Linked DNA regions of Homo sapiens. The protein of the gene in region 2 purifies or fractionates together with the protein of the main gene of each other region. This does not show direct contact. Each region holds a gene or a part of one and is shown on either strand. Other genes may lie near its edges.

Region 1 (7,000 bases), on a different chromosome or scaffold from region 2:
GTTTTCCTGCTCTCATCATGGATTTCCCCTCACCATCATGTTGGGGCTTCCTTTGCTTCTGTCCTGTTGGATCCATTGTTTCTTATACCCCTATCTCCTTTCCTGCTTTGCTCCCTCATTTTAGGGGAACATGCCCTTCAGCAATTTCCTGAGAAAAGGATTGTTAATGAGAGATAAATTGTTTTGTGACTTTGAATATCTGAAAGTGCCATTGTTCTACCCTAAAACATATTCAACCATTTAACTGGTATATAATTGTTGGAGGTAATTTTCTCTCAGAATTTTGAAGGCATTGTTCCATTGCCTTGTAGTTATTGTTGAAGTCTAAAGCCATTTTTATTCCTCATTCTTAGTACATGACCTGGTTTTTCTCTGTGGAAACTTTCTGAATGTCATCTCTGTTGTACTGAAATGTTATAATCATGGTAGGCCTTGGTAGGAATCAGTTTTCATTAATTCTGCCAGTTATTAGATGAGCTTTTTTAATGGGAAACTTATGTCCTACATTTCTGAAGGATTTTCATGAATCGTTCTATGGTGATATCCTTCGTTTTCTGTATTCTGTCTTTCTGGAATTGTTCATGTTGTATGTCCTGCACTGATTTTCCTATTCTCTTTTAAAATCTTATTGTTTATAGATAAAAGTTTCTCGTATCTTTCTACAGATATGAATGATATATTTCTGTTTTTAGATTTTGAAGTTTTCTCTTCCCCCTATATGGTATGCTTCCTTCACGTTCCTTTTATTGCTTCATTTTGATCTGCATCTTTGCTGTTAGTGATTTTCCTCAAGTATCTGATGTCCTTGGGCCCTCATTTAAGAGTGAAGGTACAAGAAACAGATCAGAAGGTCTGAATTTGTGGGTGGGGCATATTGGGTTTGGATTTCACAATATCTGGTGTGGTTGGCCCATTTGATTAGGGAGTCTCAATGTCAGTATCTTTAGCCAATGAATTTTTGATGACTTTCCATTTATGTAATGAATTTAACAAGCACTTAACAATGTGCTAGGCACTGTTCCTGCTGACATGTAGCCTTCATGGAGTTGACATTTTAGTATTTTTAAGTCTTTTCCCTTGGGCTCAGTAGATTTTACTGAAAAGCTCCCCAGTCACCATCATTTTGGGGTCTCAGTAGAAGATACCTTGGAGTCTCAGTATTTAATATTTCATTGAGTCTGTGTATCCATTTTCATAATCTCCTGTCTTCCTTTGATACTCTGTACTTTTTCCTCCAAGTGTGCTTGGAATCTCCTGGTCTGGAGACTCTTTAGTTTGTCCTCTCCAAAGAATAAACCTGTCTTCTTTGTCATGAGGTGGGAGAGGGGAGGTGAGAGAGGGGAGGTGGGAGAGGGGAGCGGATCTAGAGTTTCTGAATGCTTTTAGGGCAGTTTGTTTGTTTTTAGCCCTACCATTCATGAGACACACTGGGTGTAAATCACATTGTTTCTATGCTGTTCTCACTCCTGATTTAGGATCTGTTTTCTCTACTGTTTTAACAAAATGTTTATATTCCTCCACCAGCTTTCCAGCTTCCAAACTTTTGTTACTGTTTCCTCTCCCTTTCTGTGTGTCGTTGGGAGCTTATGCCTTTAAAAAAAAATCCTTTTAGTGTGATTTTATTAGTAGTAGGGAATTAGCAGAAAACAAAAGTATATATTTTAGTCCGCCTCATTTCATGTGTTTTGCCCTTGGCTGTATCTGACTAGTTCCAGAGATCTTCCATCCTCCACTCTTGGGTTTTATGTTATCTATATCAATGCTAGTGGAAAAAAAGTAACTCCGGTTATTTAGAATGCCTTATTTACATCGTATTCATGGATGGATCGGGGCGGGTTGGCAGCCTGTATAAGCTGAGAAGTTAAAACATTTCAAACTTGATGATAAAGCCATCCTGAAGATATAGCCAGACAGAACCCTAAAGCTGTCCAGCTTCTCAATCTTGACTATCCCATAAATGAGCATTCTCCCTCAGTCTGGTGAAGAGGTAAACTATCCCTGAGCTTTTTGTGTAACACATTACATCCCTAGAGCTAAAAATGACCCCATCAGTAGTGTTTGTCTTGAAGGAGAAGCTAATTTAATAATTACAATAGTTGATTTAAAACAGTGGTCCCCAACCTTTTTGGCACCAGGGACCAGTTTCGTGGCAGATAGACAATTTTTCCACAGATGGGAAGGGGGTACATTTCAGGATGAAACTGTTCCACCTCAGATCGTCAGGCATTAAGAGTCTCATAAAGAGCACAGAACCTAGATCCATCACATGTACAGTTCACAATAGGGTTCATGCTCCTATGAGAATCTAATGCCGTTACAGGCGGAGTTTAGGCGGTAATGCTCACTCACCCACCCACCCACTGCTCACCCTCTGCTGTGCGGCCTGATTCCTAACAGGCCACAGACTGGTTGTTTGGGAGACCCCTGGTTTAAAAGCTTGTTCTTAATGCCTTAATGGAGCATGGGAAGGAAATTTTAGACTTCCTGTCTTTTGGATACTTGCTGAGGAACTGGACTTGAGACCAACAATAAAGGAATAGGTAATGACACCTAATTGGTGACTGGACCTGAATACACAATGTTTGCTATGACCTACAGATGACAGAAAGTTGGAAGGTTTTATATTTGACTCCCGTTTCTTTGGCCATTTACTGCTAATAGTCTCATCTGCAAAATGAGGGGTTGGACTAGATGATCTCTACTTCCCAGCCTAGTTGAGTAGATTACCAACAGCTAAGTTTACACTGCTGTGCCTAGTTTTCTTCTTTTGAAATGATTCTTGTTTAGTCAACTTTGCAAAATTCCTTTCTTTTTGACATATCTGTTTATATTTACATTTCCAGTTTTACTGGTTACTTGAGTTTAACATTAGCCAGCTTCCATTATCCTAATAAACAGTAAGAATTCTGTCACTGAATATTTTATCTGCCAGGTTTGTTCTTACCACTTCCTTTAATGACTCCTTAATTATTCCATCTTCTTATTAAATAGTGGGGTTTCTAGTTTGAGAGGGAAATGATTTGCTCTGTGAATGTGTGTACACTGTATATGTGTGTGTATATATATATATATAAAACATACATACATTTTTGTATGCATAAATATATATAATTTTTAAAAATCTGTTTAGGGCTTCAAGCAGCAAGCTCTTACAGTATCCACAGATCCTGAGCATCGTTTTGAGCTTGCTCTTCAGCTTGGAGAGTTAAAAATTGCATACCAGTTAGCAGTGGAAGCAGAGGTATGTACTAATTCATGATTTTTCATAACTGATGGAAAAGTCAGTAGGTACTTCTATGTGTTTGGTGTAATGTTTTGTTATTAAAGTTTTCCCAAATGCAAATTAGTGGCTCATTTTGTTGAAGTTATTGTCTCTCTCTTATCTTTTTAAAAGATGTATTATGTTAAACTTTGCATAAGTTAAATTGATTACATTGGAGATATTCTTAGCACTCTAATTTGTTTTAAGAAAAATTGTTTTCATATCTTATGTGAGCTCTATTTTGCAAGATAAGAAAAGATGTAAAATAGTATGTAAACTAGTCTGGAAAGCCTAAGAGTACAGACATAGCAGTTATTTGCCAATGTCTGAAACTAACTAAAAATATGTTGGTTTTGAAAGACAGCCCAACCCCCTCATCTTTTGGTGTTGAATAGAGCAGGCAGTCAGAGAAGGACAGTGCTGCCTTGGTGGCACTCACCTTCAGCAGCAGATGCTCTTAGCACATCTGGTCTAAATGTTTGAGCTAAATGAGCTGTTCAGGGAGGCTCAAGTGGGAGAAATGTTAATACCATTTTTGTAATGATATTTTTATAGATCTTTGTATATTGAGGCTCCCAATTGTTTCAGACTGGCATTTACTGGTAAATTAATTTCAGATGTGCAAAATAAATTTTAGCTACGTTAAGATCATCTAAACATGCAGCATTTTGAGTTCTGAAAAGCTACAAGTGAGACATAATATTATTGTGAAATATTTAAAGACGTAGTTTTGTATGCTTTCAAAAAAGTGATATTAAATCACTTGTTAAAATAATTGCAGTCTAATTGCCTTAAAACTCCAGTGAGATGGTTTTACTTTCCCTGTGTAATTATAAGATAAAAGTATAATGGGTTGACGATAATTATTTGCACATCATTAAAATTGATTTGTGTTTAAATTCATTTTGTATACATTAATAATTTCCATTTCCTCACTGTACATTTTGCAATGCCATTCTTATTTTGATAGAGCCAACTTAACAAACACAGCTCTTTTTATAAACATTGTCTGCACAGTTAACAGAATAATGTTGGAAATGTAAATGCTTATTTCTAAAGATATTTTAACTTGGAAACTCTTTTCTTACAGTCAGAACAGAAGTGGAAACAACTTGCTGAACTTGCCATTAGTAAATGTCAGTTTGGCCTAGCCCAGGAGTGCCTGCATCATGCACAGGATTATGGGGGCCTGCTGCTTTTGGCCACTGCCTCTGGAAATGCTAATATGGTGAACAAGCTAGCAGAGGGTGCGGAGAGAGATGGCAAAAATAATGTGGCATTCATGAGCTACTTTTTACAGGGCAAGTGAGTATTAATTTAAAAGATTAATTAATTCTACACTGAGGATGGTTTTTGGAGAGGGAAGTGAAGAATGAACCCTGGAGAGAACTGATGAATGGCCAAATGGTGTTGAATAGACGGGGCAGTCAGAACAGGACAGTGCTGCCTTGGTGGCACTCACCTTCAGCAAGGGATGCCCTTAGCACATCTATCTAAATGTTTGAGCTAAATGAGCTGTTCAGGGAGGCTCAAGTGGGAGAAATGTTAAACACCTTCTTCAACAGCCCTGCCAGTTAATGGTGGAAGCATTTTATTTTATGATTGCAGGAGGCTATTGAGCTGCTCTAGTAGGTACCTGAAGGGCAGGTGATTTTACCCAAATTGGATAACTTTGATCCATTTATGGCAAGAACAAAAGGGGATAAGTATGCCACTTACTTGTAGATTTGAGCCCACTATAAAGCATAAAGATGTCTCATATTTTTAAGTCTAACCGAGTTAGCATAAACCAAATCATTTGGACATTAGTTGGCAGTATTATGAAATAAAACACAAAAGTATTCTTTCCTTTTTTTTTTTTTTTTTTTGAGATGGAATCTCACTCTGTTGCCCAGGCTGGAGTGCAGTGGCATGATCTCGGCTAATTGCAGCCTCTGTCTCCCTCGTTCAAGCCCTTCTCCTGCCTTAGCCTCCCAAGTAGCTGGGATTACAGGCATGCGCCACCACACCCGGCTTGTGTTTTTAATAGAGATGGGGTCTCACCATGTTGGCCAGGCTGGTCTCAAACTCCTGACCTCAAATGATCCGCCTGCCTCGTCCTCCCAAAGTGCTGGGATTATAGGTGTGAGCCACCACGCCCAGCCCGAAAGTATTCTTTAACCTTCTCCTACATACTGATTTTTTTTTTTTTTTACAATCCCATACTTCGCCATATAACTTTGAACGTGCACCCCATTGTATGTATGTGAATGTATTTATGAATTTATATACCTGTAAGAATAGACCCTATTCCTTATCCATAATTCAAAAATCCAAAAATATTCTGAAAACAGTTATAACTGTTTTGATGGCAAGACCTGAGCTGAACTGCTTTAGTATTTTTAGTTGCTTTTATACCAACTTGGTACATTTTTATTGCATTTAACATTCCTATGTAAGTTATTGCAGTATTAATGTTTGTGGCTTTTTCATGCTGAGGATGTAAGGTAATACATAGTATACATACTGTATCACCTTTCGAAAATCCAAAAAATCCTGAATTCTGAAACATATTGTCCACATCATAAAACTTGCACAGAAAAAAAATGAAATTAAAATAGAAGAAAAAATAAGACACCATGGTATTCTGCTGGGCACCACTGGCTTGTCTGGCCCTTCCCATGTTGGAGACACTGCCCTAGATATTTGTCTTGTGGAACTGAATTTCTGCTGGCATATATCCTTATGCCTTTAAAATTTGCTAATCTAACCTGCCTTAACTCCTCTTGAAAAGCCCCTTTAGGTTCTTAGGAATTATAATAATTAAGTTAAGTAGATTCAAAGTAGTCAGGAAAGCTGTCTTATCCCTCATACCCTTGCAGTGTGTTGATTAACAACCATTAAAAGACAAGTGACAGAAATGAGATATATGTGTGAAGATTGGGGAGATTTTTGGCTTTGTAACACTAAATTTACTTTGTGTTAAGTACCCATTATTATAGTGTTTATTCTTGGTAACAGTACCTCTCCTTTTTAATGTTTAGGGTTGATGCCTGCCTAGAGCTCTTAATTAGAACTGGACGGCTGCCAGAAGCTGCCTTCTTGGCCCGAACTTACTTACCCAGTCAGGTTTCAAGGTACAGACTTTTAATTTTAGGAAGAAATGTTTCCAATAAAAAGAGAGCACATTTACTTAGTCTCTCTTTGGTTCCATGATGTCTATAATAGGGTAGTGAAACTCTGGAGAGAGAATCTCTCAAAAGTCAATCAGAAAGCAGCAGAATCCCTTGCTGACCCAACAGAGTATGAAAACCTGTTCCCTGGATTAAAAGAAGCCTTTGTTGTTGAAGAATGGGTGAAGGAAACACATGCTGATCTGTGGCCAGCCAAACAATACCCACTTGTCACGGTGAGTGGCCAGGATGTCAAGCTTCATTTATTGTAACTACAGGGTGGAAGTACATTCAGGACTTCAGATTTTGAACTGCTGTCTTCTTTTAAAATTAAGAGCTGATATCTGGGATTTAGGCCAAGTTCATAGGTAAATTATGATTTCAGAATATCTCATTTCATCATTGCTTTATTCTCTGATAGCCAAATGAAGAGAGAAATGTCATGGAAGAGGGAAAAGACTTTCAGCCCTCAAGATCTACAGCTCAACAGGTCAGTAGAGCACTTCATGTGATAAATTTGGCTGAGATGGTTCACTTTTTTTTTTTTTCTTTTGAGACAGAGTTTCGCTCCATTGCCCTGGCTGGA
Region 2 (9,331 bases):
TTAAATGTTCCTTTCTCTTGCCTCTGGTGACTGCCATTCATCAGCCAGAGCACTGACCCTGAATCCTGGTGGCAGTCTTATCTCCCATGAGGATTAATATTAACACTTAAATAAACAGCATGATTTCCTGCGAAGAAGATATTCATTAATATACAGTCCCTTATTCTCTGCTTTTCTCTTAATTGTGTGTTGATTTTGGAAAGCTGTGTTTTGTGGGTGAGAGAGAGACGGTCAGACTAGCTTCAGATACTTTCAAAGTAACACTTCTGTAACTCACTCTTCCAGTCTGACTGGCTTTTCAGGCAGGAGTTGGAGACCAAGTAGAGCTTTCTGCCTATGAAATGGCAATTAGTTTCAAAGAACATAGACCCATTCAAGTTACCTGAGGAAAAGGGGGCTGGTTGTAAGGGTGTCAATGGGATGTTAGGGTATCTGGGTGGAATTAGATTTGAGGCTGGGCTTCCGGTAGTCTTGAGATGGATAGTAGTAATGTGCCCCCTAAGTATGACTAAGCTACGGTCCCAGTGTTTGCTTTTTAAAATTTTACTACCAACTGACTTCCTCTGGAAAGTTTCTGACTTCATGTGGCTTTGGTTTGCCGTAGCTCCACCTCCACCTCATAGCATCCTTCTACCTTCGGCTATGCTTCTAATAGGCAAAAATTGTTCTTAGTTCAAATTCCTGGGGGAGACAATGATCTGGCCAGTTTATCTCTTCACTCAGGCCATGAAATTGATGGCTAATTTGTGAATTAACCGCCCTTTGGCCCAGGATAGGTACCTGCCAACATTAACTGTGCCCAAGAAGAGGTGGCAAGATCAAGTGCTAAGCATAATCCTCCCTACTCAGCAGGAGGTTGTGACAATCTGGCCAGCACTCTATCTCCAGAACAGAGGGATTAGCATTGTTGCTTTTACCCATGGTCCCACATAAACTTTTTATTTGTAGTCCCAGTAGAAAGGTGAATGTTACCATAGTTGCCATACTTGGCATTTCTTTTAGTACTGTTTTTTGCTTCTCTGTCATTTTTAAGAAAGATACATTGCCAGGTAGGTAGGAATTCAGTGAATTTGTTACAAAGCAGATTTAGTTCTTATTCTCAGCAACATTTTTAGATTTTGAAAATCTTCAATTTTAGATAGCTTTAGCCTTTATACATGTGTTTCTTATATAACGATGGTTGTGGATCGGTAGGCACTTTAAATTTTGTTCTAGGCATGTGTTTTGAGCAGCATTACATACCCAGTGTAGAAGGTGTTGTATGGAATTTCACCGAAGTGGGGAAAAATTCCAAGTAGAGGGTCAATGTGTAATGATTATTGAGTTTATATTTGTCCAAAGAATACAGATTTTAAACAAATTTTTAAAGGCCTACATAGAATTATTGGCCGTATTTGTAGCAGTTTGCTTTCTACATTGCCAGAGTTAGTAAGAACTCTATTTTCTAATTTTTATATTATGGTAAAGCCACCACTGAAAACTGACTGCCACAGATTTTTCAGACATACGTTGTTTGGCCTATATAGGTTTAGAAAACATTTGATTCAACATTGAAAAATATGGAGATTTCCACAAAACTATTCAGGCTCTTGGTTCCTCACGATAAGTGGCATGATCTGACAGTTCTGAAACTGCAGTCCTGGTTGGAACTCTGTGATAGCCACTGTCTTCAGAATGCAAGCCTCTCACAGTAGGTCCCATGCACGCACAGTAGGTCCCTCTGCCAGGCTGCCAGTACTGCTGGGGCACTGCACATTACCTGTTGTCACCCTGTGAGTTTGTATCCCTGTTGTCAAGAAAGCTGTTCATATTGTAGAAGATTTGGAAGGTGCAGGCAAGTGTGTGTGTATAAAATTACCTATAATCTGACCTTCCACTGGAAACCTCTGTTAATACTTCAACATATATTTTTCAAGTCTGTGTGTATGTATACATATATTTCTTTTCAAAACAACTTTGAGGCGTAATTGATACAGAATAAATGAAAAAAGTGTACAGTTTTATGTTTTGACATAATCACCCGTTACCATCATCATCATCAAGATAATGAATATATCCATCCTCCCAAAAGTTCCTCATACATCATGATAATCCTTTCCTCTCCCTTGATCCCTCTAACTGTGCCCCTTCACTAGGTGAGCACTGAAGTATTTTGTCATAGTTGCATTTGAATTCTGTGTATGTGTGGGCTTTTGTTTTTTTTTAGCAATTGAGATTATTTGAGATTCAGTTTTGCGGTTTCCCCTTTTTACTTAGGATAGCTTTGAAGAGTAGTGCGATCGTACTTTTTCTTATGTTTATCGTCATTTGTGTTTCTTCAATGAGTTGTCTGTTTTCTTTCCCATTATTGTACTGGTGTTTTAGTGTTTTACTTGGTTTATATGAGCTCTTCATTTGTTAATATGTTTTTCATCATATTAACAATGTTTTTCAACATATTAATATTAAAACCATGATTTTCCTCATTATAAGTATTCTCCAATTTGTATTGTTTTCCTTTATAATTTTAAGTTATTTTCTACATACAGAAGTTTTATTGTTTTTGAGTAATATTTTTACAACATTTTCCTTTGTGAGTGAGGATATACAAGTGAGTTAGGAAGTATGAATTACCTTATTCTATTTTTGATTGCCTTTCCACTCTGAAAGTTTGTATGTGGTGGAGTTTGGGGAGGGACAGTAACTACCTGTGACTATTTAGTAATGTGCATTTTCTCTAGAGCTGTTAGTTGTTAATTAACAACCATTGCTGGTAACTTGCAGAGCGTTTACCATTTTTACTGTCAAATGTCCTAGTTATGAGGATCAAAGAAACTAGTAGTTTGGGGTGGCTATGTCTGGATATCTCTTGTTGATGTTGCAGATAGGGATTTAATGTTTGAAATTGTTTTCTGTTTTCTTTTAGATCTGCTTGGCTTTGAGGAAGAGTGGCAGTACTGCCTCACTGCATAAGGGATGGGATCAGAGAACAGTGCTTTAAAGAGCTATACACTGAGAGAACCACCATTTACCTTACCCTCTGGACTTGCTGTTTATCCCGCTGTACTGCAAGATGGCAAATTTGCTTCAGTTTTTGTGTATAAGAGAGAAAATGAAGACAAGGTTAATAAAGCTGCCAAGGTACCATAATAGGTGACGACTTAATAGTTAGTACTTTTTACTATCTTGTTTTCTTTTAAAAAAATATGAAATTAGTAAAGTTCAAAGGAGGTAAGATCATAAGGACCAGTATTTTATTTATGTCCTTTCAAAACATTGCTCTTACTTCATGGGCCTATCTTCCATTTGCATGACATGGTCAGGTACCATACCTGTAGCCAAAAAACATCATAAAACTCAGTACAATGGCTTTTATCATCATATTTTATTTTTCTGGTGAGAAAGTTAGGGAGACATTTTTATGTAGCTAATATAAGATATAAGGAGCTATATAAGGAGTTAATCTCGTCTAGCAAAATGCAGTTAAGTATTGACATCATTCTGGAGGCTTCAGCTTCCTCCTTAGGGAAAAGATCCTTGTAGTTCATGCCTTATAATTGTTGCTCCAGGCAGAGGGTGCCAGTGCATTAGCATGCTGTCTGACACACTCAGGAGATCCTGGCCTCTTATCAGAAAAAATGATTTTACTGTGGAATGTAAGTCAATAAAATAACCCCAAGTGTCTTTTTGAATTAGGGAAAATGAAGGCATTAGTTGATGCTTCTTTGGATAGCTAGCACTTTGGAAATTTAGGAATTCAGATATATCATCTTCTAAAATGGAAAATGTAATTGTATTAGTAAATTAATTCTCCAGTGTTTATTCTGGTAGGCATGCTATTTTCAAGTTGAACTTGATATCTTGATTTTGTTAGAATTATAATCTCTATTACCTTGAGTCCCTTAGTTATCAACAGGTATGGAACATTGATGTCTGTTTCATAGGACTCTAAATTGTTTTTATTTTTTTAAAATGATTATAAAGGATTATATTAGTAATGGAATTTTGGTCTTCACAACAGTAATTTATTTGATGTTGTATTTTTGATCAAGCATGAAATTGTTATAAGATGGTTCCTAAAGAAAAAGATGGGTAACAGTTCTCTCGAGATGCGTGGTGGTAAAAAGTATATAGCTGGCTGTTTTCTTGCTAGGTAATTTTGCTTTTTGGTAGAACCACATTTTTGACTCTTTTTTTACATCATCTAGGTATTGTTAAGAATTTTTTATTGTGATTTTACAAAAGACAAAATGCCTTACTTCGCTTTCTTGTTCTTACAGTTAATGTCTAACATGCCTCCTGTTATTTTCATCTAATAAGATTGTGCATTTTTTTTAATAAACTATTATCGGCGAGGTACTAGAGACTTATCTTTCTTAGTATTTTTTTCTTTATAAGATTTTTTTAAAATTGTGTTACACTTTATGGTGCACGTACCAAGAAAATTGAATAACCTAGATCGAGTTTTTAAAGGAAAAAACAGCAAGACCACTCTCCATTTTTGAGGACTTCTGTGCTGAAGGAATTGCGAAGCTTGAGAGGGAAGACTTATTCCCCCTTAATATTCATAGATACCCTTTTAAGCCATGTCTGAGTCTTTGCACATAGTTCATCTTTGTCTCTTGTTAAGCCATTCTGTGGCTTTGAAAACCTCATATATGAATTTGGGAAATTTGAAATTGCAACAAAGTGATAACTTTAGATTCTCAGAATGTTTCTCATAATCTTAAAAAACTAGGTCATAGCACTTGAGAAATGTATGGCATTCGATGTGCTAGATTTTAGGAATTTGATGTCCTAGGTATCTGAAATACTAAAACAATATATTTAGCTTGCCTCACTTTCTCTAGAGTTTGGGTTGTTGGTCACACCTTTGGTAGTTTTAACGATTATTTCAAGCAGATATATAGTGTTTTCTGTTACTGGATAACAATATACACTTTCTTCACTGTTACAAGTAAAAAACAACAATCCTAGTATACACCAAGATGAAATGCAGGTATAAGCTCTGGCCACAAAATAATGTGAGAAATACTTAGTTCTATCTGACCATCTCATTTTACATTGAATTCATCAGCTATAATTAACAGTATAATTTGCTAACTGATGATGATGACTCATATATGTAAGCCTATAAACAGTGATAAATTCTAAGCCCGAATTTGGTTGCTGTAGTTTGCTGTAATCTAAGTGTTTAGTTAGGGCTTTGTGGTAAGCTTATTAAAGCTTATAAAAATGATTCTTGAGTGTCTTTATGCCAGGAATCACATTGGACTCTAAGAGTGGTATGTAGATGCTATATAAGTGCTCTATTTAGTATTGTTGGAGTCATTATGCTCTTCCCCATAATGAATTTGGGCTGTTGTGGAAGGGTTAGTCAATGTTATTTAAGAATGCACATTGTGTGGGCATAACAAGAAATGGAAGAGATGATGGCTATGCCCAAAAGAGCTTGCATTCTAATTGGAGAAAGCTGTTCTCCTCTCTCATACTGACTTTTTTTTTTGAGATGTAGTCTCACTCTGTTTCCCAGGCTAGAGTGCAGTGGTTCGATCTTGGCTCACTGCAACCTCTGCCTCCCGGGTTGAAGTGATTCTCCTGCCTCAGCATCCCACGTAGCTGGGATTACAGGCACGCGCCGACACACCCAGCTCATTTTTGAATTTTTAGTAGAGGTGGGGTTTCACCATGTTGGCCAGGATAGCCTCTACCTCTCGACCTCGTGATCCGCCTTCCTCAGCCTCTCAAAGTGCTGGGATTACAGGCATGAGCCACCGTACCTGGCCCATGGTTGACTTTTTAAGAAATTATTTTTTGCCCTTCATAATCAGAATCCAGTGCTCTTACGTGGCTTCTGGGCACTATCCACTCAGAAGAACTTCAGAAGTATCCCCCATGCCTCAGGTATGATGGACCCACCAGATGGAATGGCCAGCTACTTGCTCCCCACCACACCTTGCAGACTTCACGCTCTCCTTTTTCCTTGGATGTTAATAACCATCCAACCTGCCATTCTAAACTAATTATCTGCCAAAATCTCTAGTCTGAGCTCCAGATCTATATTTTCACTTACCTATTGAACATTTCCACCTAAAAGTTTTATCAGTACCTCAAATGCAAGCTCTACAGAATGGAATTTTTATTCCTTTCTCTTTCTGCATTTTATTGTTAGTTTATGATCTAACCTTCAGATAGTGGACATTTACAAAAAAAAAAGCATCTGCATTTTGTCTTAGATTTACATCTTCAGAGAAAAAGGAATAATATTTTTCCCTGAAGATCTTTGTTCTCTAGTTTAGGCATCTTGGTTATTTTGTTTACTTAACATATTTAACAGCGTGAAATTATGGCTTTGTCTCATCTAAAAGCCTGCAGGTGGATTTGGGCTGTAATGCTGAGTCAGTTAACTTTGCATAGTTCTCAAAGTGAAATAGCGAATCAGAGGCAGAACAACAATAAAAAGTTAAGCCTCTGAGGCTTGAATGAATTCTCTGGATAGCTGAATCATAACTGATTCCTGATAAAGGGGAATCATTTATATTTAGGGAAAGAATCTCATACTTAAGATCCCTGTTTGGGTGTAGAAAAATATCATCATTGATAAATTATATAATACTATTCATATTTAACAATAAAGGTCCTTACTCAGAACCCTCTTTCAGAGACCATCACCTAGGACAGTAAATGGGATGTAATAGGTATTCAATAACTTTGGGGAAAGTGCTTTCAAGACACTCATTCAAAAATAGTCATCTTTCTCTACTAGGGCAAGAGCCATTTATTTGCTCAACTGATGTTCATTGAAAAATATCCTAGTTACCCTTAGCAAGTATGTCTTGTTGCTATTCTTTAGAGCAGCAGAGGCTTGAATCAAAAAATGTCCTATTTGATTCTGAACTGCTAGCCTTTCCTGTGAATCTGTGTGCATAATTTATGCTTAATATTAAATGTACCAAAGGAGAGTGAGAAATAAGGTTCTTGCTAAGTTAAGTGCCTTGTTCAGAAACATGTAATGAGTCATTTCTTCTTCTCCTTCTTTATTAAACAAACAAGTACTCACTTTGCATCAAGAAAATTTCTAGGCATTGTAGAGTAAAACAATAAGCAGAAGAGAACATGAAAGATTTGGTTTGAAAATTATTTGAAATGATTCTTAAATGAAAATATGAGGGAGGCTACATAATTTTATACAGAAACCGTAGCTCAAAACACACCTGTAGGCCAGGCAAGGTGGCTCATGCCTATAAGTCCAGCACTTTGGGAGGCCGAGGTAGGTGGATCACCTGAGGTCAGGAGTTTGAGACCAGCCTGGCCAACATGGTGAAACCCCATCTCTACTAAAAACACAAAAATTAGCCAGGCATGGTGGTGGGCGCCTGTAATCCCAGCTATTCGAGAGGTTGAGGCAGACGAATCATTTGAACCTGGGAGGCGAAGGTTGCAGTGAGCTGAGAACACGCCATTGCACTCCAGCCTGGGTAACAAGAGCGACACTCTGTCTCAAAAACAAAACAAAACGAAATAAAAAAACACTTGTAAAAAATTATTCCCAGTTAACTGCACTCATTTAACCAACCTGCTAACACAATTTTTGGTTTATCTGGATCTTTGCTGTATTTATTAGTTTGTAATTGCTAGTTAAAGAAATTTTTTCTTCAATATTTTCTTAATTATTTTTTATTGAATTAACTCGAGGGTAACAACTTTCTTCCTAAGAATAAATAAATAAACCCTATTGGAGCTATTCCCAGAGTTGGCAAAATTTGAGATTATTATAAGAAAATAAAAGAAATTGGAGGCTGGGCACAGTGGCTCACACCTGTAATCCCAGCACTTTGGGAAGCCGAGGTGGGTGGATCACAAGGTCAGGAGTTCAAGACCAGCCTGGCCAACATAGTGAAACCCCATCTCTACTAAAAATACAAAAACAATTAGCTGGGTGTGGTAGCGGGCGCCTGTAGTCCCAGCTACTTGGGAGGCTGAGGCAGGAGAATTGGTTGAACCTGGGAGGCGGAGGTTGCAGTGAGCCAAGATTGTGCCACTGCAATGCAGCCTGGGTGACATAGCGAGACTCTGTCTCAAAAAAAAAAAAAAAAAAAAAATGTAATTGGAGAAACCAACCCACTGAGAAGATTTTCCTATGACCCTGCCTGGAAGTAGTTTAATAAAGTTTGAGGCATCTGATACAAAAATTATACCAATGCAGGGTATGGATTCTTATGCTAGCCCATAGTCCTCCAAGAAGGTGTTCAGTATTCACTGCTTATTTATGAAAATGCCACCTGGTAATATATTGAGGGTTATCTTCCAAATGAAATATTTCATCACTCTCCTCCCAATCTGATTGGACAGGGCTTCCTCAGTGATTGTATAGGGTAGACCCTAGAGCTTTAATATCATGTTAGGACCTAGAGGACATTATGTTAAGTCAGGTGTCCCCAACCCCTAGGCTGCAGACTGGTACTGGTTCGTGGCCTCTAGGAACAGGATGGCACAGCAGGAGGCTGTGGGCAGTGGGCACGCGAGCATTACCATCTGAGTTCTGTCTCCTGTCAGATCAGCAGCAGTATTGTGTCCGGAATTGGTGGGTTCTTGGTCTCACTGACTTCAAGAATGAAGCCGCGGACCCTCGCGGTGAGTGTTACAGTTCTTAAAGGTGGCGTGTCTGGAGTTTGTTCCTTCTCATGTTCGGAGTTTCTTCCTTCTGGTGGGGTTCGTGGTCTCGCTGGCTCAGGAGTGAAGCCGTGGACCTTCGCGGTGAGTGTTACAGCTCATAAAGGCAGTGTGGACCCAAAGAGTGAGCAGCAACAAGATTTATTGCAAAGAGCGAAAGGACAAAGCTTCCACAATGTGGAAGCGGACCTGAGAGGGTTGCCACTGCTGGCTGGGCAGCCTGCTTTTATTCTCTTATCCGGCCCGACCCACATCCTGCTGACTGGTAGAGCCCAGTGGTCTGTTTTGACAGGGCGCTGATTTGTGCGTTTACAATCCCTGAGCTAGACACAAAGGTTCTCCACCTCCCCACCAGATTAGCTAGATACAGAGTGTGGACACAAAGGTTCTCCAAGTCCCCACCAGAGTAGCTAGATACAGAGTGTGGATTGGTGCATTCACAAACCTTGAGCTAGACACAGGGCGCTGATTGGTGTGTTTGCAAACCTTGAGCTAGATACAGAGTGCTGACTGGTGTATTTACAGTCCCTGAGCTAGACACAAAGGTTCCCCACGTCCCCACCAGACTCAGGAGCCCAGCTGGCTTCACCCAGTGGATCCCGCACTGGGGCTGCAGGTGGAGCTGCCTGCCAGTCCCACGCCATGTGCCCGCACTCCTCAGCCCTTTGGGTGGTCGATG

What was found. The genes of interacting proteins can lie anywhere in the genome.
Region 1: the proteins of SCYL3 (region 2) and COPB2 purify together in Homo sapiens (affinity purification with mass spectrometry; 2 studies listed by BioGRID and IntAct, with this or other methods). This does not show direct contact.

The regions. Positions count from the first base shown.
Region 1 is NC_000003.12:139,358,648-139,365,647, reverse strand, and holds part of COPB2 (coatomer subunit beta'), read left to right. Parts: intron 1-3,130; coding exon 3,131-3,241; intron 3,242-4,352; coding exon 4,353-4,567; intron 4,568-6,285; coding exon 6,286-6,378; intron 6,379-6,469; coding exon 6,470-6,650; intron 6,651-6,835; coding exon 6,836-6,904; intron 6,905-7,000. UniProt on the Homo sapiens protein: The coatomer is a cytosolic protein complex that binds to dilysine motifs and reversibly associates with Golgi non-clathrin-coated vesicles, which further mediate biosynthetic protein transport from the ER, via the Golgi up to the trans Golgi network.
Region 2 is NC_000001.11:169,882,465-169,891,795, reverse strand, and holds part of SCYL3 (protein-associating with the carboxyl-terminal domain of ezrin), read left to right. Parts: intron 1-2,905; 5' UTR 2,906-2,955; coding exon 2,956-3,120; exon of another isoform or gene 3,121-3,146; intron 3,147-9,331. UniProt on the Homo sapiens protein: May play a role in regulating cell adhesion/migration complexes in migrating cells.